7 linked regions of the Homo sapiens genome follow. The protein of the gene in region 2 interacts with the protein of the main gene of each other region in a pairwise test. Each region holds a gene or a part of one and is shown on either strand. Other genes may lie near its edges.

Region 1 (4,060 bases), on a different chromosome or scaffold from region 2:
CGCCTGCTTTCAGCATCAAAACACAAAACACATGAAGCAATGGCTTTTAGATATTGGACAACAGGCAGTTCGGGAGAGTGATCCTTGAGAAACAGGAAATAAAGTGAGCCCTATGAATGGACATTGCCTGGAACTTTCAGGCCTCGGCATAAGGAGGAAACTCTCTGATTTAAAAAACGGAACACAGGCCGGGCGCGGTGGCTCATGCCTGTAATCCCAGCACTTTGGGAGGCCGAGGCGGGCAGGTCATGAGGTCAGGAGATCGAGATCATCCTGGCTAACACAGTGAAACCCCGTCTCTACTAAAAATACAAAAAAATTAGCCGGGCGTGGTGGTGGGCGCCTGTAGTCCCAGCTGCTCGGGAGGCTGAGGCAGGAGAATGGCGTGAAGCCGCGAGGCAGAGCTTCCAGTGAGCGGAGATCGCGCCACTGCACTCCAGCCTGGGAGACAAAGCGAGACTCCATCTCAAAAAAACAAACAAAAAAAAGGAACACAGCATCAGTGAGCTGTGGAACAAGATCAAGTGGCTTAACACATATGGAATTGGAGTCCCAGATTTTTTTTTGAGGGGATCAGGAAGAGGACAGTGAAAACAAAACAAAAAATAGTAATAACAGAGGTTTTTGTAGTGAAGCTTTTGAAATGATGGAAAAATTAAGGGACTAGAAAACCAAGACCTTAGAAGGTGTCTGTCACGAGAGAGCAAGCACAGGGTACTATATAAGGCTTAGCCTGGGCCAGGCACAGTGGCTCATGCATATAATCCCAGCACTTGGGATGCTGAGGTGGGTGGATCACTTGAGTCCAGGAGTTCAAGACCAGCCTGGGCAACATGGTGAAACCGCATCTCTACAAAAACATACAAAAATTAGCTGGGCATGGTGGCACATACCTGTGGTCCCAGCTACTCAAGGGGCTAAGGCAGGAGAACTGCTTCAACCTGAAAGGTGGAGGGTGCAGTGAGCTGAGATCATGCCAACGCACTCCAGCCTGGGTACAGGGCAACAGAGTGAGACTCTGTCTTAAAAAAAAGGAAAAAAAAAAAAAGTCTGGGCGCAGTGGCTCACACCTGTAATCCCAGCACTTTGGGAGGCTGAGGCGGGTGGATCATGAGGTCAGGAGATCAAGACCATCCTGGCTAACACAGTGAAACCCTGTCTCTACTAAAAATACAAAAAACAAAAAACAAACAAAAAAAAAGCTGGGCGTAGTAGTGGGCGCCTGTAGTCCTAGCTACTTGGGAGGCTGAGGCAGGAGAATGGCATGAACCCGGGAGGCGGAGGTTGCAGTGAGCCGAGATCGTGCCACTGCACTCCAGCCTGGGCGACAGAGTGAGACTCTGTCTCAAAAAAAAAAAAAAAAAAAAAAAAAAGGTTTAGTTGGGGCAGGGTGGGACACTCACTACCCCTTGGGTTTCCACAGAGGGAAGGAAATTTTTACTTTCTCAGGTTAGGGGAGAAAGTCAACAGTTCTTGATAGGAAAAAAAAGGAAAATCTTTTCACCCTCTTTTGGCCTTAAAATGATCATTTCCTTATATTCTTTCCAAATAATCTTCAGTACCGTCTAGGTGGCATACATAAGTGCTTAAACTTTTCTTATTCTTTCTATAAGGGAAGTACTTTCCTACTTCCTATATTAATAATCTCCCCACCCCCGAAGTCTTCAACTCCAGCTGATAGTTTTAAACTTAGAACATTCTTTCCTATTTGTTTTTAATAATGCTAGATAATGTATTCAAAATAATCTTAGTATCTGAAGAGGAAATGAGATTATACATTATTCCCTCTAACATAACTTCTCAGTTTGTTATTTTGTGCATTTAAAAAATTACATTTCCGAGGATATGTGCTCCTTGTGTCCTCTAACCTCTTAATCTAAAATAACAGGGACACTTAATTTTTTTTGGTATCTAATTATACTTACAAAGTATATGATATCTGAAAATAAATGCGACAAAATATGAGACCATGTAATAACACGATGAAAAGACATTGGAAAAACATGGCATTTATATTAAATGTATTTTTATGACTAAATTTGTTCTACACAAAAGTTGTTTATCCCTGCCAATGATATCTTGTGGGGGGAAAAATGAGTACTCACCTGGCGAAAACAGGAATTGTTAGTCTCCTCAAACGAGAGCTTACTCTTGAAATACACAGCGTTCTACCATATCAAGGTCATCAGAGAATTGCTGTAAAAACCTAGTGTCTATGTCATCTGCAGGAAAAGGAGATAAAGTCACCATTATCATCCAGAAGCTCTTGAGTTATTTAAGAAGGGACATGGTAGGTATTAAGAAAAATTAAGAAGACTTTTTTCCCCCCCATTCTGGGCTCCAAAAAATTGGTAGAAGAATGCAGCGCTCATTCTTTTTCACTAAAAAGCTCATTTGTCACTTTAAGGTGAGGGGATTTGGAAAAGGACTGGCATGTGGAGAAGGAATATCGGTCAGGAATCTGGACTTTGTTGCTAGATCTGCCACTTCCTGATTCAGCCCTGATCGTGCAGAGCTGACCAAGGCCGTGGTCCCCAGGCTCCCCTGACTCCAGGCTGCCCACGCTCACCGGGACAGGCCGGCTCGCTCCCTGCAGGCTGCAGCGGGAGGGCTGGACCTGGAAGCCTCTCTTAAAACGGGCCCTGGCTGCAGCAGGAGCTGCGCCCGAAAGCAGCTCTGAGAGTAACCGGTTCACCGAACATGGGTCCAGAATGATGCCCAAGCCCTGGGAAAAGTGGCACAAAGCCACCGCCGCGAAGCAGCAGGTGTTTCAAGCTGAGGGAAGGCGGGGCTGCGAGAGACAGCCTTGCGCATGCGCGTTCCATCCAGGTGCGGCAGCCTCAGGCAGAGATTAAGAAATGAGTCGTGGAAAAGGGGGCTAGCGGCTGGTTACTAGGAGACGGGACGCTCGGCTCGGGCGTCTAGGCGCTGCGTGGGCGTGCGCCTGCGCGGCGCGGATGGGCCAGGAAGGGGTCCCTCCTAGGTGCCCTGTAAGGCAGGCAGGTAGACGTACGCGTCGCTCCGTGCGTAGGAGCGCGCGCACGGCTTGTAGACCCCGCGAGAAGGAAGGTCGAGCCAGGTACGCGTGCGCACCGGGCCTGGGGGCGAGCGGGACGGAAGCAAAGCTGGGGCGCCGGGGAGGTGGAAGACGAGCCCCACTCCGGTACAGAGCGTGAGGGCGGGGCCACGGCGGCACTGGCTGGCGCTAACCGCCCCCTCCTCCTTCCCGCGGGCTCCGTCCTTCCTCCGATCCGCCGGGGCGGGGCCAGGACGATTTGGGGGTGGGAAGGGAGGAGAAAGGGGCGGAGGATGGAGAGTGGGCGGTTCTTGTATCCCCCGCTGAGGCCGAGAGCTGACAGTCGCGGGGATGAGCTCTGGGCAGGACGGCGGGCCGAGGAGCCCGGGGAGGGACCCGGAGCTCCAGGTAGAAGCTGCGGAGGTGCGCGGGGTGGGGAGAGTGCTGCTACTGGACTGGAAGGTCTCTGAGAAGGCGGCTGCAAGCGGGCAGGAGTGGCGGGTGCGGGGCCGTGGCGGGCGGAGTTGGGCGCTAGCAGCGGGAGCGGCTGTGAGGGGCAGCGGCGGGCACAGCTGCCGGCCGGAAGCTCGGCAGCACGAGTTGCCCCTGTTTCTTGGGAGGTTAGGTTTGAGCCCAGTTCCTATGGTCACTGCTTCGCGTCCTCCCGCAGCTCTCCGCTTGGTTGTTGGGGAGACTGTTCAGTTTAGAAACGCTCTGGAAGCTCTGGTGGAGCCGAGGAATTTGGAAGTCACAGATTTGGGAGTTCAGCCTGACTCCCGATCGCTCATTTCTGAGCCTCTTTCTAGACTTGGGGTGGTGAAAGGCTGAGATTACATAGGCATTTGCATGAAAATCTCAGATAATTTTAGTAAAAATTATACACAGTAAAGGCAGGGAAAGCTGGCTTTTGTTGAAAAACTATTTGAGACTTAAATTGGATAACTAGGTGATCATGGACTTGATACCTAAAAACTCACAGAAATATGGTTTTTTTTCACTTTTTTTTTTTCGCAGCTTCGGGAAAGTTTGCATAGATTATAGTGT
Region 2 (3,500 bases):
CAGTGAAATCTTCCCCACCCTTCTGTGCCTTCCTTTCAAGGCACTTCTTGGTTTGTTATCAGGCATGCATCAACACACAACTAATGGCTGGCTCTCCCAAGGGCAAGGCCACAAGGAACAAGGCCAGGAGCTTACATCCCCTACCAGCCCATGAACTCAGTATCCTAGAACCAGGTGGGGCTAAGACAGACCTGTACCAGAGGGACAGCATCCTGTGTAACCAGTCCCAGTGGTGGCGGCAGGGTAGAATCCTATCCCACCTCAGAGAGCACAGGAGGAAGGTCATTCCCCTCAAGGTTAGGGTGGGAGCAGAGTCCCCTGGGGTGAAAGGTCCCCTATGGTGGGAACCAGGACCTCGGCTTTGATAACCAAGGCTGGGACCCCACTACCCAGGACTTCAGTGATTCCATCACTCACCTCCAGCTGCTGCCAGCACCATTCGAGGGGCCTTGTAATGTGTGCTGAGGTACTCGGTCAAGTCTGCACGAGACAGCTTCCTACAAGACATATGGTCAGTGTGTCAACACCTCTACCACACTGGAGTGAGTTGGGGTACATGCATGAATGGGACTGAGGAGGCAGACTAGGAGAGGCATGGTTTCTCCGAAGAGTGGGCCCTAGCACACTCCCCAACCCCCTTCCCCTGTCTCTGCCACCCACCCCTCCAGGGCCCAGAGGGCAACCCTTGTCTGCCCTTGCCTCATGCCTGACTTCAGGACAGGCTCATAGTCTTCTCTGAGAAGGCGTGAGCCAACACTGTGGGACTCTCAAAAGGGCAGCATCAAAGCTCCCGGAGCCATCCACAAAGGAGACAAGAGACCACATGGAGGGGACACCCAGACACTTCGCCCTTGGACTGTCAGGACATGCACCAAAACATACCTTAAAACAAAGCCCAAAATTCAAGTGAAGCCCACAAAGCCATTAAAAAAGACTCACTGGACCACATGGATACAGAAACTGTCTCCAGTTGCATAACTCAGGAAAATAACCCCGACAGCTAGCCAACTAAAAATGTGACCTGGAAAGGGTCTGGCCAGGCCAGAATGGAGCAAGCATCCCCCCACAAGGCCAGCCAACTCTCACCTGACATTCTCACTGGGCCCCTCCACAGCCTGGGCTAGAGGTGTGCCCTGGAATGCTGTGGCATGCAGGTAGTTAAAGACCACATCTCGCATAGATGCATCATTCTCCTGCATCTCCCGCAGGATCACATCACGTTCCTTCTCAATCTGTGAGTCTTCCAGACTACAGTTCTGCACAATGTCACCCAGGAGCTCCACAGCTAGATGCAAGGAGGACATGTTTAGGTGCCAGGTGGACCACTGCAGACCAACGACAGCACAAAATCCCCAGGCCTGGCATCTCCTGCTGCCCACCCCTAGTTGCCCAGCTGCAAAGCCATACGCTAAGGGTAATATGATTCTGTGGTCAGCCAGGGGCTCCTAGGTAGCTGTCCTCTGCTTCCCTGCCCTCTGTCCCCGCCTCTTCCTCCAGGTGTTACCTTTCGGCAGATCCTTGGACAGCGCCTTGATGTAGTAAGCTGTGTGCTCCCGGGTGCTGTAGGCATTAAGATGGGCCCCCATGCTCTCCACCTCCTTCTCCAGGGCACTGCCAGGCCGATTCTTTGTTCCCTGGAACCAGATATCAACCAGAACAATCAGGAGCTACACAGGAACCCAAGAACCCTGTCCTCAGAGGCTAAACACCCAGCAGGACCACTGGTCCACAGGTACCTCCCTCAGCATAGACTCTGGGGACACAGATCCCAGAGTCTGTTTACCAAGCACTAAGCAGGCCTTGAGGTGACCAAAACCATGGCATCATGCGCCAACAGAACAGAGATAGCCAGGGCCAGGACTGAAGGGCATGGCCAGAGCAAGTGTTGCCTAAAGCTCCTGTAACAGCTTACCAACAAGCTGTGGGGATCATTACCAGTACACCTCCCCCCTCCTTATTGACAGCCATGGTCAGGTAAGCCCACACCTGTGTTCAAGTGATAGAACCCACTCCTCCCATGCCATTCCCATGACTGTATGTTTGTGAATACATGCTAGTGGCCTCTGTGGGACCCAATCCTAGTCCTGTGTGTGGAGAACAGTGGTGCTATCTCTTGGTGTGCACACACACGTTAATTCTGCACACATACCTGTGACATTGCAGCTGGCTAGGTTGCCTACTATGGCTCCATGGCCCTGCCCACCCCATAATCCTTCTCCATGTTTTTCATTCCTTTAAAAAACATGGGTCTTTACAACCAAGGGATGCCTAGATATTCCACCAGAGAAGAACATTTCATAAGCAAGCATGCATGCCCATGTCTGTGGGTTTGTTAAAATGCATGTGCATATCTACGTGTGTTCCACAGGCCTGGCTTCTCTGGTGAAAAGTGGGGCTCCTATGGTTCCTTGGGTCCTCTTGGCTCTGAGGGCCTCAGGCAGGGGCTCATCAGATACGTGCCCACTCAGGAGAGGTTAAGCTCATGTGGCTCCTTTTAGGAAAGCCAGCCAGACATCAGCCCCGCAACTGAGGCCCATAATCAGGCTAATTTTTCTGACCTTCATCCTCAGGAGGGACAACAGGCAGCCCTAAGCCCAGAGGAGACAGACTTTAAGAGCCTCACCTTGAAAGCCAGATGCTCCAAAAAGTAGCCTGCCCCATTATTCTTCTCAGTCTCAAAACGGCTGCCAACATCAATCCACACTCCCACCTGGTCAAGAAGCCACCAGAAAAGGTTACAAACAAACCACTCCCCAGCCCCCTACTCACACCCCACCTGAGTGACTCAGTACAAGCCCCAGGCAGGGACTTATGAATCCTGGAGTCAGGGAGAGCTGCCCCAGCAGGACCCCTGTGCTTGGGGACACAGTCATGCTTGGAAAACAGGGGCAGCCGAATGACTCGTCACACCACATCATTGCTCTCCTGATTGGCTATCAAGGACCCACAGGGACACTTCTAACTGTGCACATTTACCTGGTCTCACCAGCATACAAATCCTTAAATTCACTCTCAATTTTCAGTTAATTATTTGTTTTTGTCTAAGCATACAACATATCATTTGCAAATAACAACTTATTTTTTCCTTTCTAAAAATTACACGCTGCCTTTGTTCTGGCAATGATTTTATCCTTTCATCATTAAGGAAGGGACTATTGGTTTAGACTGTATATTTTATCACACTAAATATTGTTCCTATAATATCTTTTTTGTTGTTGTTTTTAATCAGCTCTGAACACCAAACAGTGTTGCCTTGGCACCCAATAAGGTAATATTAATTTTCTTGACAGCCTCCTGGTTGCTGTGAAACACGCACCACAGGCTGGGCGCGGTGGCTTATACCTGTAATCCCAGCACTTTGGGAGGCCAAGGCAGGTGGATTACGAGGTCAGCAGTTCGAGACCAGCCTGGCCAATATAGTGAAACCCTGTCTCTACTAAAAATACAAAAATTAGCCAGGTGTGGTGGCACGTGCCTGTAGTCCTAGCTACTTGGGAGGC
Region 3 (3,500 bases), on a different chromosome or scaffold from region 2:
ATCTAAGGATAACTGTAAGCATGTGATATCCTGGTAAATATAGGAAATAATTGCAGAAGAAAGAGTGGTCAGATATAACGCAGTGGCTAAGAAATAAGAGGAATAAAAATAAATAATTCTTTTCACAATTAGAAACTCATTAATTATAGCAAGATTTGGGTAAAAACACATGGTGGATAGGCAAAGCAATCATCATTTTGGACTCGATAGACTAAGTTGGAAAGCAAATATCAACCCTTTTACAGCATGATGCAGTGGGGAAATTATCCAGAATCCATATCTACCATTTTACCTCTTTCATATCTTCATAGTACAAAAAAAGTATTGGGTGTTCTTCCTTTTTCTTCCACCAGTTTTTAACATGAGTAAACCAGGAACCATAGGCCACTAAAACCAGATAAAAGTCTATTTTCATAAACATTCATCAAATTAAATATTTCTGTCTGAATAGTAAATCAAATTGTGAAAACATTTTGAATTTAGTAACCAAAGGAAGTAAGAATATGAGGACAATCTTAAAAAGTAAAATTAGCTATTTATGGATATATAAACATCAGATATTTTTTAATGTCAAGTACAAAGAAAGCATTTCAGACAAAAATACACTGACCTCCAAAAAGTTATACTTAGTCTCATAAAGAAGAAAACTATTATCTTACAAAGTACTCATATCAACTATTTACCTAAGTACTATAAATATGACATATGCATTAACAGATCTAACTAATTGCTTAAGCAAGTTAAACAATGTCTATTGTGAGGAGAGACTGATAATGGACTTCTAGCAACTGAGAACAGATTATAGAATACTTTTGTATGCCAATGATTAATACTAGTTTTATAAATTGAAGGTCATAGTAAAAATATTAGATGCATTAGATTTAGTTTTTTAGATAATATTTGAACATACTTTTCACTAGATTGGAAAAATAAGTATTTTGAAAGTCATAAAAGTTATTGTTAATAGTATTATTAAAATAAAAAATACTTATCAATTTTAAGATAAAGTCCACATACCTTTTCCAGTTAAGAATTTCTCCAGATATTCTTCCCAGGTACCAGGAAAAGGCTGTAAATTATTCATTAAGTCAAAATGGTAATATGAGACTGAAACATCCTTGGCATTACGAGCCAGATAAATCATCTGCAGTGGGGGGTGGGGGTAGGAGAAAAAAATAAGATAAAAGACATTTTGTTTAGGAAAAAATTAACCTATACGCATGTAAAAAAGCAGAGTACTTTTTCAAATAGAAATTGTGGGCCAGGGAGGCCCTTCTATTAACAGCTAAAATATAGAATCAATTCAAGTGATTTTCAATACAGCAATGCATTTTTGAGATTAGAACCATCGAGCTATAGACGTTTTGAAAAAAAGATTTCAGTTTCTGGCCACTTGACACTGTGAAGCATTAATAGACCACTGTGGCTTCTGGAAGATCTGCAAGGTCCTAGAACACACATTATCAAGAAAATGACACTGTGACTAAAGAGAATACCAGCAAATTGAAAATAACAAAATTGTGGGAAAAAAATAAAAGTTTTCACTTTTCACTTCTACCAGTGAAATACCGAGAAAAATATTAGGTGCTGATAAAAATATATAGAAAGGAAAAGAAGGTAAAGATATTAAAAGGCATTAAAATAAGTTTGGGGGCATCCAGTTCAGAAACTAGAAGGTATAGACTCACTATTTTCTACTTCGCTACTCTTTTTTTTTTTTTTTTGAGACGCCCTGTCGCCCAGGCTGGAGTGCAGTGGTGCGATCTCAGCTCACTGCAAGCTCCGCCTCCCAGGTTCAGGCCATCCTCCTGCCTCAGCCTCCGGAGTAGCTGTGACTACAGGCGCCCGCCACCACGCCTGGCTAATTTTTTGTATTTTTAGTAGAGACGGGGTTTCACCATGTTAGCCAGGATGGTCTCGATCTCCTGAGCTCATGATCCGCCCTCCTCGGCCTCCCAAAGTGCTGGGATTACAGGCATGAACCATCGTGCCCGGCCTTTTGTATTCTTAATGTCACTAAAGCCCTGGAAATTATTCAACTTACAATGATACAAGAACTCCAAAAGCATACTGGACAAAGAGCTGAGTAATGCCAATGTGGTGAGTTCCTCCTAGGTGTCCTTTTTATCTCCTATATACTCTTGGATTGGGCAGCAAAAAGGACTGTGACCTGGAACCATTTACAGGCATACACGAAACAAAAAAATATCTAGAAAAACCTGCTCTCCCTGGTCAAAGGATTAGGAAAGAGGAAGCCCAACAGAGACATAGTGGAGAATTCCAAACTCTGCTCCACACCCGGGTCTCTGTAGGTGAGCTAACTCACTGCCAGTAATGGCAATGAAGTACTGGGACATTCAAACTCCTGCGATATAAACGGGGCTTTATAAGCAGTCCCACCCATTCACAGTGATGACATCAGAGAAGCCCTGTTTCTCCCAGGCCCGAAGGCTTCTCTCCAATTTTCAAAAAGTCAGCTAACAAGAGTGGGAAGTCCAGGAAAGTACCTTATACTCCTTTTATGTGGCATCAGCAGGGATGGTACAGTATGTCCAGCAGCCCCAGAAATCAAATAAGCAAGAAAAACAAAACTGAGATGAATCAAATGTTAAGTTATCTGACAAAGATTTAAAGTAGCTATCATAAAAAAGCGTCAACATTCCATTACAAGTTGTCTTGGAGGGTGGACCAATCATCCCCCACACCTCAAAAGGAATATCAAATTTGCCAACTACCTACACACAGAAAGTACCTTCATGAGAACCAAAAATCAGGTGAGCACTCACAGTACCTAGTTTTAACTTCATATCACTAAAACAGCCACTGAAGATGATAGGAAAGACAGTCTTAGAATTGCTATTTCCATGCCTCCCCCAACCCTTAGTAGCAGCCGTGTGGCATGGTGAGAATCTGTGCACTTGGGAGAGGGAGAGCACAGCAATTATGAGACATTGCATTGAACTCAGTGCTGCCCTGTCACAGTGGAAAGCAAAACTAGACTGAACTCAGCTGACAGCCTTCCATGAAGGAAGCATATAGACCAATCCTATCTAGAGGGGAATCACACGTCCCAGTGGTAGAAATATGAGTTCCAGCAAGCCTCACCACCATAGGCTAAAGTGCTCTGCACCTGTAAATAAACTTGAAAGACAGTCTAAACCACATACTTCTAGACATGTTCTAGTGCTGAGATGGCCTCAGAGCCAGTGGACTTGGAGGGTACAAGACACACTGAGACATACAAGACTAAGGGACTGCTTGTGCCACCCTTCCCCAGACTCCAGGCTGCACAGTTGGTGGATTCAAAAGAGATCCCTACTTTCCACTTGAGCAGAGGAGAGGGAAGAGCAAAGAGGACTTCGTCTTACATCTTGGATACCAGCTCAGCGACAGTGGGATAAGGTACCAGTCTGAGTTATGAGGCTCCTATTCACACAAATATATATATACATATGGTATACCCACAAAAGTTAAAAATTGAAAAAAAATTTAAAATAAAT
Region 4 (2,398 bases), on a different chromosome or scaffold from region 2:
ACCATGTTGGCCAGGATGGTCTTGATCTCTTGACCTCGTGATCCGCCCGCCTCGGCCTCCCAAAGTGTTGGGATTACAGGTGTGAGCCACCCTGCCTGTCCTTTTTTTTCCCCCCAGACAGGACTCTTCCTCTATCGCCCAGGCTGGAGTGCAGTGGCGCGATCTCTGCTCACTGCAACCTCTGCCTCTCGGGTTCAAGCTATTCTCCTGTCTCAGCCTGCCACCACGCCCAGCTAATTTTTGTATTTTTAGTAGAAACGGGGTTTCACCTTGTTGGTCAGGCTGGGCTTGAACTCCTGACCTGAGGTGATCCACCTGCCTTGGCCTCCCAAAGTGCTGGGATTACAGGCGTGAGCCACCGCATCTGGCCAGTGTATATGTTTATAACTGGAAAGAAAGAAAACAGAGCACCAATCGTGGAGGGAGTGACCTCTGCTATATTGATGCTGGCATTCTTGGCTCAGTATGCCAGATTGCTTTTAAGATAACCTGAACCTAAGGGCTTTCCAGCATCGGAAAACCTTGGAAAAGACTAAAGCTTGTTTATAGGCAGAGATGGACTAAAGGACATGGGTGTAAGATTTGGGGTGGAGGCCCTTTGAGAATGTTCACTGCTTACATTCCTGTTACAGCTTGTGTAACCTGAAGAGGCCTGTATGGTGGGGGGGAAGAGACTTGGGTGAGTCAGTGACTTAGTGTGGTTCATGGAAAACAGCCTGGGGAGGGCCTGAACAGGGAAAAAGAAGTCCTCACTCTGTCTCCACCTGGGGGCAGCAGTTAGCCATGCCCTTCCTGGGGCAGGTCTCAGAGTCCCACTTTGAGTTCCACCCTCCACATGCCTTGCATACTTATGCAGAGGAGTGTCCTAGGCCCCTGTTCAAACCCCTTGAGCTTACTTCCCTCATAAGGTCATACACATCTGCCAGCACAATGACCATTTCCTTTATATTAGTAAATTTTAAGTGAAAGCACCCTTCACTTCTCTTAGCCTGGCAACCTTCCTCCTTATTGATTGACCCCTGTGCTTTCTTCCTCTTAGTACCTTTGTGTTGGATGAATTTAAGCGCAAGTACTCCAATGAGGACACACTCTCTGTGGCACTGCCATATTTCTGGGAGCACTTTGATAAGGACGGCTGGTCCCTGTGGTACTCAGAGTATCGCTTCCCTGAAGAACTCACTCAGACCTTCATGAGCTGCAATCTCATCACTGGTAAGAGAGTGGGTCTGAGAAGGAAGGAGAACAAGGTGTAGCAAGTGCTGTGATTCCAAAGGCTGAATGTTCTCCCTTGCCGCTTCAGGAATGTTCCAGCGACTGGACAAGCTGAGGAAGAATGCCTTCGCCAGTGTCATCCTTTTTGGAACCAACAATAGCAGCTCCATTTCTGGAGTCTGGGTCTTCCGAGGCCAGGAGCTTGCCTTTCCGGTGAGGAAGGTGGAGGAGAGGAGTCTCTTTAGGGTGGGGCAGGGATATAAGAAGCACTGTGTTTTATTTCTGAGTTGATGGATGTTTAGGAGGGTTCAGGAATGCTTATAGGAAGGAGCAGTTCATGTTCACAGGAGACCTGGGGTCTGATGACATGTGTTTGAGCTGGAAGTAACACAGGTGTGGGGTGGTGTCTCATAACTTGACCACATGCTGGCTTTTTATCCCCAGCTGAGTCCAGATTGGCAGGTGGACTACGAGTCATACACATGGCGGAAACTGGATCCTGGCAGCGAGGAGACCCAGACGCTGGTTCGAGAGTACTTTTCCTGGGAGGGGGCCTTCCAGCATGTGGGCAAAGCCTTCAATCAGGGCAAGATCTTCAAGTGAACATCTCTTGCCATCACCTAGCTGCCTGCACCTGCCCTTCAGGGAGATGGGGGTCATTAAAGGAAACTGAACATTGAACCCTTTCCTGTCCTGCCTCCTTTGTGAGTGGTGGCGTCTTCAAGGGGAGTAGATATGTTGAAGCAGGGTACTTTCTGTGTTCGCAGTACCTCGATATGCAGGAGAGAAGACTTCAGAAGAACAGAAATAGAGGCCTGTGTTCACTTGTGATTTTAATTACCCTGCCTCCTACGGTGATGACTGTCTTCTAGCTGGGAAAGAGCGGAAGCAGTTGGGGCGGGTAGTGACATGGGGCTTTGTGACTACCTAATTCTTAGGGATCAGATTCCAGGCCTTTCCCAGTGAAGGGAGAGAATAGCTGCTAATAACAAGAGCTAACGTGTATAATTCACAGAGCGCAAAGGAACTTTACATTATTTCCTGTAACTGTCCTGTGAGGTAGGTAGCTGACAATATGCAAGGGTTGTAGTTTCTTTTTCTTTTTTTTTCTTTTTTTTTTTCAGACAAGGTCTGGCTCTGTTGCCCAGGCTGGAGTGTAGTGGTGCAGTCTCAGCTCAACCTCTGT
Region 5 (3,500 bases), on a different chromosome or scaffold from region 2:
GCAGATCTAATAATCAGCTGTGACACAGCATGATACTTCTGTCAGCCATAGCCATACCCAGACTAAGTTGCTCTTCTAATGTTCATGAATATTCAAATACAAACAGGACTGTGGACTCCTTCTAAAAGAGGTGGATTAATAGGTCCCAGGAGCAGATCCCTGGTTACCTTGACACTCCACAGTGATTTCTCACATCCCTTAGGTTCCAGCAATCAGGGCTTCCCACCTGCAGACAGCAGCCTCTACCTGGGTAGTTTAAACAGAAAGGAACTTATTAAAGGCTATCATGCAGCTCATTAAATCCCTGTGAGAGCCAGAGACCAAGCTTGGGAGCTCTCCAAGGGTCAGGGTAGCCAGAAAAAAAAGCCTAACCATGCCCTGGCACTGTCTAGTAGAAACTGCTGGTACCAGCACCAATCACAAGGGACCAAACTCCTACAAAGTCCACCACAGCCACCCCACAAGTCCAGATGTCCCTGCCACCGTGAGTGACAGATATCACCTGCATGCCAAAGACTTCAGCTCATGGGACTCGACTGCACATCCGGGGCTGGGTGATGTATCTGGCTGCTTGTGAGGATCTGTGTCAAAGGCCTGCACCCTGGCTGCAAAAGAGTCTGGGAAACATGGATTTAGCTTCCCAACCTCTGCAGTGCAGGAAAGCCAAGTGAGATGGGGTTAGAAACAGTTGTTGACTGAACCAATGACAGTATCTGTTACTGTGGCACTTAATAAAGCTCACCCCCTGACGAAACTGAGTGGACACAGCCACGCAATTCTGTCTGAAGGTTTTCGTCTCTGCCTGCAACTTGATTTTCTTGGTATGCAGCCAGTGGTGTGCTGGAGCCAGCTCACAGTGGCTTGTGAGATGATCAGGAATGTTTCAAGTTAGCTGTTTTAACTCAGACATTATTCAAAACTAAACTATACAAACTTACAGTCAAAGAAGTTATATTAAAAACACAGGCAATACATACTCAGAACCCATCATTTCCTAGTCATTCTACTACACATTCCCATTGCCTACGCTGTGGACGCTGCTCCACCTGCCGGTGCGGGGGCTTGCCACGGTCCACTCCTCCTCATGCCACATCCAGGGATATCGTGAGTGGCCAGAAATCAGGGAATCAGCCAGAATGGGATTATTTATGGAAATGCTATAAATCAAGGCTTGATTTCTTGTTTTGTTCATTGTCTGGACTTAAGAAAGTAATGGAAAAAAATTGTCAATAATGCAGATTAAACTGAAATTTTTGTCTTGTCGATAGCTGTTATATTGTGAATAGCTCACAAAAAGCTGAGGGACTATTCTTCTAGTATTCCGAAACTATTATGTGATTTAGGAAAGAAGTTATTTAGATCACTGACAAACAAGTGAAGTTCTGACATATGTTCATTGTTCCACTTTCATCTTACACTTTATTGTAAATGAAAATATCACCCAAAATCCATGTTGCAGCTACATGCTGAGAACCAGCTGTTAAACACTTACCACACACCACAGCATGTACCCCATATACTTTCTAATTCTGGGCACCAGAATAATCAGAGAGACCCTCCTGGAAGAGGCAGGAGGCCTCCAAAGGGCAGACAGATACAAAGAAAAGAGAGGGCAGAAAGAACGGCACACGCGAATGCCAGGCAGTGACAAGAGTGGGTTAGACGTAAATCGAGAGTGTTTGTGAGGACTGTTTATGGGTAAGATCACATGGTCTAGCCACAGGGACCCACACCATATCTCTTAGGGGAGACAGTCGTTCTTTTATTCTGTGATAACAGGATGAATAGCATGGAAGTATTGCTCCACATGCAATGAGAGAGAAAAACACCTCTTCGTAACAGGACCTGGGATGGAGACAAGCCCACTTGAGTGGTTTGGGAGAAATGCTTCAAGATCAGGGATGGACCATGGACTGCCTGGGGTGCCTGAGGAATGTCCCATTGAGGAGGTGATATTATCTCTGGGTGTTGATGGATGAATACGAGTTCACCAATCAGGGATGGTAAGATGGCACAGGCAAAGTCCTAGTGGAAAAGAAGGGCTGGGTATATTTCAATCGTGAGGAAAAGACTGAGGGGCAGGAATTCAGCGAGACAGAGAGGATTCCTGTAAACGACCACTTTTCATTCACACTAAGCCAGGTCAGACCCAATTGTGAAATTCAACCCTGCCGAGGGAGGTATGGGAGAATAAGGAGAGAGAGTTAGAGTGGGAGCCAGGAATTTGCCCAGCTCTTTGCTCTGAAGAGCTCTGGGCTCCTTGACATCCATTTGCACTCATATCCTCCAAGAAGGGTGTACTCCCACCGTGCAAAGTCAGAGAACTCCCCACCCCATCCTCCTTCTCCCCCAGCCCTAGCACAAATGGAGGGGCTGAGGCAGTCACACTATGCCCAGCCTTCCAGACCACCAGATCCAGCAGAATGGGGGCTCAAGCCTGAGGGTCCTCACTGGTTCCCGTGCAGACACCTACAGAGGAGCCTGTGGCCAAACTCACACTCAGAGACATGAAATTATAGATGTCCTCCAGTGGAAATTATAACCCAGTGCTATTTCCCTCCAGAGCTTGCAGCTCTACCCTTGTGTGCAGACTTGAGGTGACCCTCAAGAAGCAGCCCAGAAAGCAAAACAACTGGGCTGCATCTGCGAGCTGCTCACACCAAAACACCGTCAGGGCTGCCATGCTGACTCGGGTTGCAGAGACCACCTTCAGCAGCCTGCCTGGCCATAGTCAGTGTTGCCGCTATCACCTACTGGACTGTTGGTCCCTGGGGAGAGACAGCCTGTGTTTGATCTATCTCTGCAACCCCCGCAGGGCATCTCAGGAAGAGTGGGGTGGACTGCAGGGTCCCCCTTTGCCCCAGGTTTTTAAACCAGCTGACAGGAAAGGAGGAATACGCGATCTCTACGACAAGAGCAGTCAGATGGCTTGGTTCTGTTTTATGCTACTCAGCATCCTTCCTAACCAAACCCAGTTTCAGTTTGAGAAGCTGCTTATGTGTGCCTGGTACTGGAACTCTCTGAATAGCTCAATCCCGGTCTTTTTTGAGCTTATTTCTCCAGTTCTTCCTCTGACACTGTGATCTACCTGCCACCATAACCTTCTAATTAATTCCTTCTTCACAAAGTTGGCCAGAGTCCATCGCTGTGGTTTGCATCCAAAGAATCCTGATTGCTATGGATGTGACAACTCACCTCAGCTCAGAGCACTATACCTCCAGGACTCTCTCACAGAACAATAACAATCAAACACAGACACTCACACACACACACAGCTGCCACCCAGAGATGCCGGCAATAACAATCTCACACACACACACACACACACACACACACACACACACATGGCTGCCACCCAGAGGAGCCAGCAATAACAATCACACACACACACACACACACACACACACACACACACACACACACACGGCTGCCACCCGGAGGCGCCGGCTCAGCCCTGCCCCTGCACCTGTCAGCATCTAGCAGCAGCTGCCACATTCACA
Region 6 (3,500 bases), on a different chromosome or scaffold from region 2:
ACACACACACACACACACACACACACACACACACACTTAATGCCTGAAATCTTACAGCTCTGTTATGAAAAACATGAGAGTTTCCCTGCCCCCAAGTTTGATGACAATGCTAAAAATACACAAGACATTACAAATAATGAGTTGTGAAGATAAATCTTTTTTTGGTCCATTTATTCTCTCATTGAGAATTATATTACTGGTCAAATGAAGAGGTTATTAAAGAATATGCCCCTTACCCCTCAAATAAAACATATAAGAAAAATAGTATTTAGGAGTGTCAGCTATTTGTTTTTATAGATTTGGTGATGTTTGTGGCATTTTCTAGCTTTTAAAATTCTACTTGTTTTTATTCATTTTATCACTTTAAGAAAATGTTCACCTTTGTGTTTACTCTTGTATTTTCATTTGCAATTTCATACTATTTTTCTTAAGGAATATCACTGAAGTTATAAAAGCTTCAGGTTCCATAAAACCAGGATCTGTCCCAAATTCCTGTACCCTGATTAAGGAGGTAATCACTCTCTATGCTTTTCTTCATGCATAGCAGCTTGTTAGTGACAGAAAACCCAATTTGGTTTTCCTCTGCTGGGAAAGGGGACAGAGACCAAGTTTTCCTTGCAATACTACCAGGTCCTGCTGAAGAGAACAGATTTCTTTAGCGCTAATTCAGACCTTATCTTGCAAACTGGCAGCTGTACCTGGTAATATTAGGAAGACTCTGAGTTCTGGTGAGAGAGCGTGAGTTTCTCTCCTGGAGAGATGTCAGCATGTCGGGGTAGCTGAATGTGTGTGTGTGCCTGCTCTAATGATTTCAGTTGAACAGGAAGTGTGCCTTCTCAGCCTCTGATTTCCTCCCTCTGACAAAAAAGCCCATATAAGGTAAAGACTGGCTGTGTCCTGTGAGAGGGGAACTACTCTGCTGCTAACTAAGCCAACTGTTCTAGACTTGTGCTTTGTCTGTCTCACAAGAGTCCAATTTTTTCATTTGGTAACTATTTTTTTTTTCCACTAAAAACTTGCCTTTGAAGGCCCCAATCTCCTGGCTCCGTGCTTCTCCTCTCATATCCCCTCTGATGCCCATTTCCTCCACAATAACCCCCTTCCCAGTCTCTCTCCTCCTCAAGCCCTAAGTCTCAGGGAAAGGCTTGACCCTTAGTTACAATAAGGTGAAAGAAAATAACATCTTAATTTGTACGCCTTTAGTAGGAGACGTTGTTTATTTAACAAGAATCAGAGTTTCAAGCTAAAACAATTCAATCTATAGCAGTGGAATTTCTAGTATAATTCCGGATTGCTTCTCACCTTCCAGTAAGTTTTGTAGTGGATAGAAGATCAATACTTTGATGTTTAGACTGTATAAACCTTATAACTTCAGAAGCACACAATTTGTTTCTTAATATTTCCATCAGCAGTCTTTATTGCATAAATAACAATTCTCTTACTATCATGTGGAGACAAAAATCTGTAAATATATCAAATGTGTATGCCTGCACTCTCTTCAATTAAATAGAGATAAAGATTGGGCTTTTCATGAAACATGGTAAATACTGTGCACTCTAAGAGCAATGATTTGTTAACTGGTCCTAGCATATATATCTCTCTGATTCACCAGTTTTCTTCTGTTGGAACAGGAGACAGAGACCAAGTTTTCTTTGTGATATCTTAGGCCCCCTTTGAACAGTACAGATGTGTCTACATACCAGTAAGGTCCATGGTGATTGGTCCCGGGGCACTCTCACAAACCAGGGTGAGCCGGGTGACAACGACATTGGGGGCTTTCGGATCTGCAGGATCGAAAGGGAATGTAAGTACCAAGAAGAGACATGTGTATAGTGGGTGTGTGCATTTCAAGTGGGAGACAGAGAGTATGAAAATAAAAGTGATCTTTCTATCTGGAGTAGAAATAGAAATGGATGTGGCAGGTTTGCTATGCTTGGTCTTGATGGCCTTGTAAATTACAGCAAAGTTATTTCTGCTTTAGGCACTTGTAGGTCCATCTAATTATTGACATCCAACATTTCCTGAATGGCTATGGGTCAGGTACTCTGCTAATTGGGCACTGTCCATTTATATCTCTGGGCCATGTCTTGTTCTGCCGCGGTGTATGTGGAAGAGATGAACGGTTAGGTAAGGACTGAGAAAGAGAGAAAATGGAGAGAGAGAAATACAATTCTAAGTGGTAGCCTGGAATTCTTTCTAAATCCCCTCTGTGTGTTATGTGTGCCTATCTCACTGCTGACTTGCATCTTATCTCTTAAGAAGACTTAATTATACAGTTCATAACTTTAATCAGCATATATAAATTGTGCCTCGCTCACTTTTTCCTGGAAGCAGTTGGTCCTCTTCCCTTTGCTGCTGCTCCTGAGCAGCCAAAATGTCTTCTTCCCTCTCAGCGATCTTCCACCCACCCTGTTCTCTGTACACACATACCTGTCACCACAGGACCATCTCCCAGCAGCGTTTTCTTGTACTTAATTAGACTCTCATCATCTTTGTCCATTTCCTGCAGCTCTTTCAGGGACTTCTGTGGTGGAGGCTTATAATTGAGCTTGCTGTCCAGCTCATCATCGTCATCCTCCTCCACATGTGGCTCTGGGGCTTTTTCAGTCATTCTGATCTATTTCTGGGAGACAGAATGACAGCCCGTTAGTCAACAAGTCATGAATATAAAAGATGTTAGTGGGGCTGCTGTTAGCAGCCTCCTTACCCTCATGGACTTCTCTGATCATCAGTCACTTTCCTGATTGTTTTCCTAATTCAATCTCATTAAATTCTATGAAATAATAATCTAATGTATTCTAGTAATTTCTCTGACCTGCCTGAATTTCTCTGTACCATTGTAGTATCTTCTATTCACTGAACAAAACTGACAAGAAAGAAATCACTCATATGTGAATAACGTACTACGAGTGAAGCAACATGGCACAAAGACTCCTGAACAAATGAAGCAAAAGCCCAGTCAAAAAGCTGTAGGAGTTATCACAGTCCTCCAAATCCAGCCAGCCTGGCTAGCGTCAAAGCTTGCAGCATGCACAGTCTGAGTGATAATGGTGGAGAGAGGCAGGAGAGAGAAGAGAGAGGTGGAGTACTTGCCAGAGAAATGGTTGGCTCCTCCCCATCAATGGAATCTGTCCCTGAACTCCAGCAATGCCTCAAAGATGACTCATGACGAACCGTTGACCTTTATGATACCTGCCTCAGGTGCCTGCATGGTTCACACCCAACACTGCTAATCACCCCTCAAGGGTGGGTACTAGGTTTGCTGTTTTTCTTGAATTCCCCCTAAAACACTTGCATAGTTCTGGCACTTTATACAATTTCCTTGATTGATATATAAGGTTTTATATCTAAAGATATTCTATTCTTTTTAAATGCCACAAAAATAGCAAAGGACAGTTTAAATTCCTCCAGACAAAATCGTAAGTACAAATTTGCCCTTAGCATTTGTCCATCCATTTCCCTTTTCTGGATCCACTTCCCTTTCAGTCTCTCCCCTTCTC
Region 7 (3,796 bases), about 89 Mb from region 2:
TAAAAAGGCAGAATACCTGATTCCCCCAGTCTTCTCCCATGCTTTGAACTTAAACATCCAATGCAGGACGGGGTGTTCAGCGCGCAACTGGTTCCCAGGAGACTCGGTGCTTCTCCCTGCTCCTTCAGCGTTTGGTTTTTTAAAAAGTAAACTCACCCAGATCTCAGCGGTCTGGGTCGGCCTTTGACTTAGTTCATTCATTCCTTGAAGTGGCCTGACCCTTTTGGGAAGAATGGGAGGAGAGAGTGAAGTCCCAGGGAACGATACCTTTGTCTAGCCTCTAAAGGCAAAAAGCAATCTCCAGGGCGCATTCCGGACGGATCCGAAGCTCTAGGCCCTTCTACACCCAACCCGCAGACCACCAAGCTGGGCCAACGGGGGGCAGCCACCAGCCATCACTGCTTAAAGTCGCTCTATGCACTTTCAGCCTCCCCGCACCCGACTTTCCAGTCCCTCCAACCTGGCTCCTGACTTCAGATTTTAGGCACATCAAAGGTTACTTTTTTACAATGACAGATTGTCTTTATTCAAAACGTCTTTGTTCAACAAATGAACAGAGCAACGAGGTAAAATCCTTCTAGGTACATTTCCAAGACATCGTCAAAACATTTATGACCATTTAGGTTGTTTTTGTTCTTTTAATTTTTTGTTCACCTTCTACTTCCTGACTTCATAACCCGACATTCTGTCTAAAAGTAAACTTAGATCTCTAGAAGCACTGCTTTACACAAAGTAAATAACCATGTAGGTCCTTTTTGTTTTCCCTTTAAAGAAGCAAACACTATCATAGCATGGTTTTAAATAGAAATGTTTCCCTTTCTGTAATTTAAAACTTTGAAGCCTTTCCCCCCCATACATGAAGAGCAAATGGCTCCTAGTTGTGTCTGATGGCAAAACACAGAGACACAGCTAACTCTTTTCTTCAGGGGACAAAAGGAAAAAATATATGCATATTGTAGATATAATATCAGAATCTGGGAGTTCAGAGTCCAAAGCCTATCCGAGGAGAGTGAAGGGGATATAAATAAAGCAAAACTGCCTACTTTTTTGTCCAAAGGGGGTACAGTCGGAGATTTGTTTTGGGAGAGTCGGGATAGGGGCAGCTGTGTAGCTGACATAACGTTTGCAAGTTTCCGGTACCTGTCTGCGCCTTGGGTCCGGGAGGACGCCCCACCCTTCCCCCTGGAAGAGAGAGGAAAAGTCTGGGTGGTGTAAGGGACAGCGGCAGGGCTGACCCCGGAGGCGTCTGCAGGCCGGGGCTAGGCTCAGAGGACAGGGTGCAGACCCGGCTTTCAGACCACGCCTCAGGTCCGGGCCGGGCTGGGGGTTACATGGCCGTAGCGTGGGCTGACGAATAAGGGTCTATGCCAGTCTTGGTCATGCCTGGGAAGAGGATGTAGGCGACGGGGGGCTGCAGGGTGGAGGCAGACCAGGCGGTACAGTTACAGGGCACCACGTAGCCAGGGTTGGTGGGGGACGGGTGCGTGTGCGTGTGCTGGCTGGGGCAGCTGAGGCTGCCGAAGGCGCCGTTCTGGTAGCCCAGGGTGGACGCGTAGGGCAGAGCGCCGGTAGCCAAGGTGTGGGGCACTTCGCCCATCTTCTGGATGGCGCTCGAGCTAAACTGCGCGGGGTCCAGCAGGGAGTAGGGCGCCGAGGCCGGCGGCAAGAAGGCCCGGGCTTTCTCGGGCGCGCTCAGGAGGCCGTCGGAGGCCCCCACGGGCAGGCCAGCCGCCTTGAGCGGGTCCGTGTCGCCCAGGTAGGGCAAGGGGAAGACATACCTGTCCTTCTTGAGCAGGTTCTTGGGCTTGCGCCGAGGTCGGTACTTGTAGTCAGGGTGCTCCTTCATGTGCTGGGCGCGTAGCCGCTTGGCTTCATCGATGTATGGCCGCTTCTCTGCCTCGGACAGAAGCTTCCATTCGGCACCTAGGCGTTTGCTGATCTCCGAGTTGTGCATCTTGGGGTTTTCCTGGGCCATCTTGCGCCGCTGGCCCCGGGACCATACCATGAAGGCGTTCATGGGCCGCTTGATGTGGTCTGAAGGTTTGGACATGGTCCCGGCGGCTAGGTGGGTGGGGGTAGGGAGTGCAAGGGTTCTGCAGACGAGCCTGGGCGCGGCTGGCCGTCTGTCTGTCCGTCCTGAGCCGGGGTTCTGCGCTCCCCTCGCCTTGGCGCCGCTGAGGGGAAGCCAGAGAGAAGCGCTGACCCCACAAAGTTCAGCTGATCATGCCAGTCCCAGCGCCCAGGCAGCCCCGGGGGAGCGAGTGGGGGCAGAAAGGGCGGGGGAGGAGAGGGCGATCGGCCGGGGGGCTTCAGGCACCAGGGGCTGGGACCCAAGTATCGGAGTCTCCGGGATTAAGTGGCCAGGTAATTTTTTAGCCAGGGCAAGAAGCTCCTCCTTCTCCCCCTCTCCACCTTTGCCTTCTCTAGTTCCCTTCTCTCCTCTTGCGTTTCCAGTCGTGGCTCCCCCTTCCCGTGGCTTTCCCGGAGCTGCCGCGCCTAGCGCTGCACCTGGCTGAGAATGCGGGGAGGCTGGTGAACGAGAGCCAAAAGCGGCGAAGTTCAAAGGCGAGGTGGGCCGGGACTGCACGCACTCTGACATAAGCGCGGGGCGGCGACTCCCCAACCTGGGCGCCAATCAGCAGCAGAGAAGCCGAGGGGGCGCACCTGCCAACACGCCGGTGCAAGAAACAGAGAGCGCGACTGGTGGGGGCGGGGAGAGGTGTGAGGGACAGAGGCAGAGAGAGGGCTAGAGCAGAGAGGCTAGCTCTAGACTGGGGACTTCGGTTCCACATTGTCTCGGGCACTGTCAACAAATAAAACTCTTCCGCGTCTCCTGTTTCCTTTCCCGGTTGTGAAAGAGAATTAGGGCTTGAAATACAAAGGCCGGGGAAGGGACAGCAAAGGGAGCGAGGCGAGAGCTTGTGTTGATAAATAGGACAGCTTTGCCGCGAAATGCAAGGACAGCACTTTGCCCTCTTGTCAAATATCCTTGGAAGAGAAAAATAACATATAGCAGGCTCAGGGTAAAAGCGAAATAAACTTTTCGCGCCCCACCCTCGGCGGTGCTTTGGCAGTGTTCTCCCGGGAAGCCCCTGCAACTAGGCATCCACCCCTGCCCCAGGATGCGGCGCCCGGGCGTAGCGCTGGGACCCTGGGTGGCTGAGCAATGTTGTCTGACCTGCTCCTGGAAGGCCTCGCGTCAGGCAATGCAGAGATTTCGAACCCTAGTTGGTGAGCCCTTAAAAGCACTACGACCTGTTCTTCACTTTTGGGGCAGGGATGGGGCTGAGATTTCTATTGCAGTTCCCATTTATGTTATTATTATTTAGTGTCTTTAAACCTCCAACTTTTACTCCACAAATGTTCATACCGTAAGAAGAGCCTAGAGGCTGGGTATGGGGCTCTTCCCGGTGCCCCTTCTGCAGCGGCCCTACAGCGGAGTCTCACGGTGTATCGCAACCAGGGTCGGTTTGTCCCTGGGCGCCTCTTCCCACCCAGGGAGGCTGCGAGACTCGTTTCTTGCGTCAAATGAGCATTCTTCGGGTAAAGAGGACGAAATAACCCGCAGAGCCAACCTGCGCGCCTGTTTCCTTTGAATAATTGCCTGCCCGATGTGAAATGCCCTTGGGGGAAATATTTATTAAATGGAAACCATTGTCCCAGGCCCGGCGGGACCTGCGTGTGTTCCAGGCTTATTGGCTTTTGCACCATTCTCTCTTGGGAGGACCGGCCAGAAACGCGCAAGGCTCCGTTGGCTCCGAGGGGCTAGGAGTGGGGGAGGGTGACAGGGAATGAG

Evidence for each region.
Region 1: the proteins of UQCRC1 (region 2) and C2orf15 interact in binary tests that used the Homo sapiens proteins (3 or more experiments, as listed by UniProt).
Region 3: the proteins of UQCRC1 (region 2) and SULT1B1 interact in binary tests that used the Homo sapiens proteins (3 or more experiments, as listed by UniProt).
Region 4: the proteins of UQCRC1 (region 2) and EEF1G interact in binary tests that used the Homo sapiens proteins (3 or more experiments, as listed by UniProt).
Region 5: the proteins of UQCRC1 (region 2) and ZNF488 interact in binary tests that used the Homo sapiens proteins (3 or more experiments, as listed by UniProt).
Region 6: the proteins of UQCRC1 (region 2) and ARHGDIB interact in binary tests that used the Homo sapiens proteins (3 or more experiments, as listed by UniProt).
Region 7: the proteins of UQCRC1 (region 2) and SOX14 interact in binary tests that used the Homo sapiens proteins (3 or more experiments, as listed by UniProt).

What each region holds. Positions count from the first base shown.
Region 1 is NC_000002.12:99,140,447-99,144,506, reverse strand, and holds the start of C2orf15 (uncharacterized protein C2orf15), read right to left. Parts: upstream 2,801-4,060; 5' UTR 2,570-2,800; intron 2,223-2,569; 5' UTR 2,106-2,222; intron 1-2,105. Other genes in the region: TSGA10 (testis-specific gene 10 protein), read left to right, coding at 3,368-3,439.
Region 2 is NC_000003.12:48,603,147-48,606,646, forward strand, and holds part of UQCRC1 (cytochrome b-c1 complex subunit 1, mitochondrial precursor), read right to left. Parts: intron 2,711-3,500; coding exon 2,624-2,710; intron 2,005-2,623; exon of another isoform or gene 1,774-2,004; intron 1,635-1,773; coding exon 1,505-1,634; intron 1,286-1,504; coding exon 1,087-1,285; intron 498-1,086; coding exon 418-497; intron 1-417. UniProt on the Homo sapiens protein: Component of the ubiquinol-cytochrome c oxidoreductase, a multisubunit transmembrane complex that is part of the mitochondrial electron transport chain which drives oxidative phosphorylation.
Region 3 is NC_000004.12:69,733,121-69,736,620, forward strand, and holds part of SULT1B1 (sulfotransferase 1B1), read right to left. Parts: intron 1,145-3,500; coding exon 1,018-1,144; intron 388-1,017; coding exon 293-387; intron 1-292. UniProt on the Homo sapiens protein: Sulfotransferase that utilizes 3'-phospho-5'-adenylyl sulfate (PAPS) as sulfonate donor to catalyze the sulfate conjugation of dopamine, small phenols such as 1-naphthol and p-nitrophenol and thyroid hormones, including 3,3'-diiodothyronine, triidothyronine (T3) and reverse triiodothyronine (rT3).
Region 4 is NC_000011.10:62,559,096-62,561,493, reverse strand, and holds the end of EEF1G (elongation factor 1-gamma), read left to right. Parts: intron 1-1,039; coding exon 1,040-1,212; intron 1,213-1,300; coding exon 1,301-1,425; intron 1,426-1,656; coding exon 1,657-1,815; 3' UTR 1,816-1,898; downstream 1,899-2,398. UniProt on the Homo sapiens protein: Probably plays a role in anchoring the complex to other cellular components.
Region 5 is NC_000010.11:47,374,294-47,377,793, forward strand, and holds part of ZNF488 (zinc finger protein 488), read right to left. Parts: intron 247-3,500; exon of another isoform or gene 168-246; intron 1-167. UniProt on the Homo sapiens protein: Transcriptional repressor. Plays a role in oligodendrocyte differentiation, together with OLIG2. Mediates Notch signaling-activated formation of oligodendrocyte precursors.
Region 6 is NC_000012.12:14,948,102-14,951,601, forward strand, and holds part of ARHGDIB (rho GDP-dissociation inhibitor 2), read right to left. Parts: intron 3,051-3,500; exon of another isoform or gene 2,816-3,050; intron 2,624-2,815; 5' UTR 2,612-2,623; coding exon 2,431-2,611; intron 1,785-2,430; coding exon 1,701-1,784; intron 796-1,700; exon of another isoform or gene 699-795; intron 1-698. UniProt on the Homo sapiens protein: Regulates the GDP/GTP exchange reaction of the Rho proteins by inhibiting the dissociation of GDP from them, and the subsequent binding of GTP to them. Regulates reorganization of the actin cytoskeleton mediated by Rho family members.
Region 7 is NC_000003.12:137,763,039-137,766,834, reverse strand, and holds SOX14 (transcription factor SOX-14), read right to left. Parts: upstream 2,521-3,796; 5' UTR 2,051-2,520; coding exon 1,328-2,050; 3' UTR 501-1,327; downstream 1-500. UniProt on the Homo sapiens protein: Acts as a negative regulator of transcription.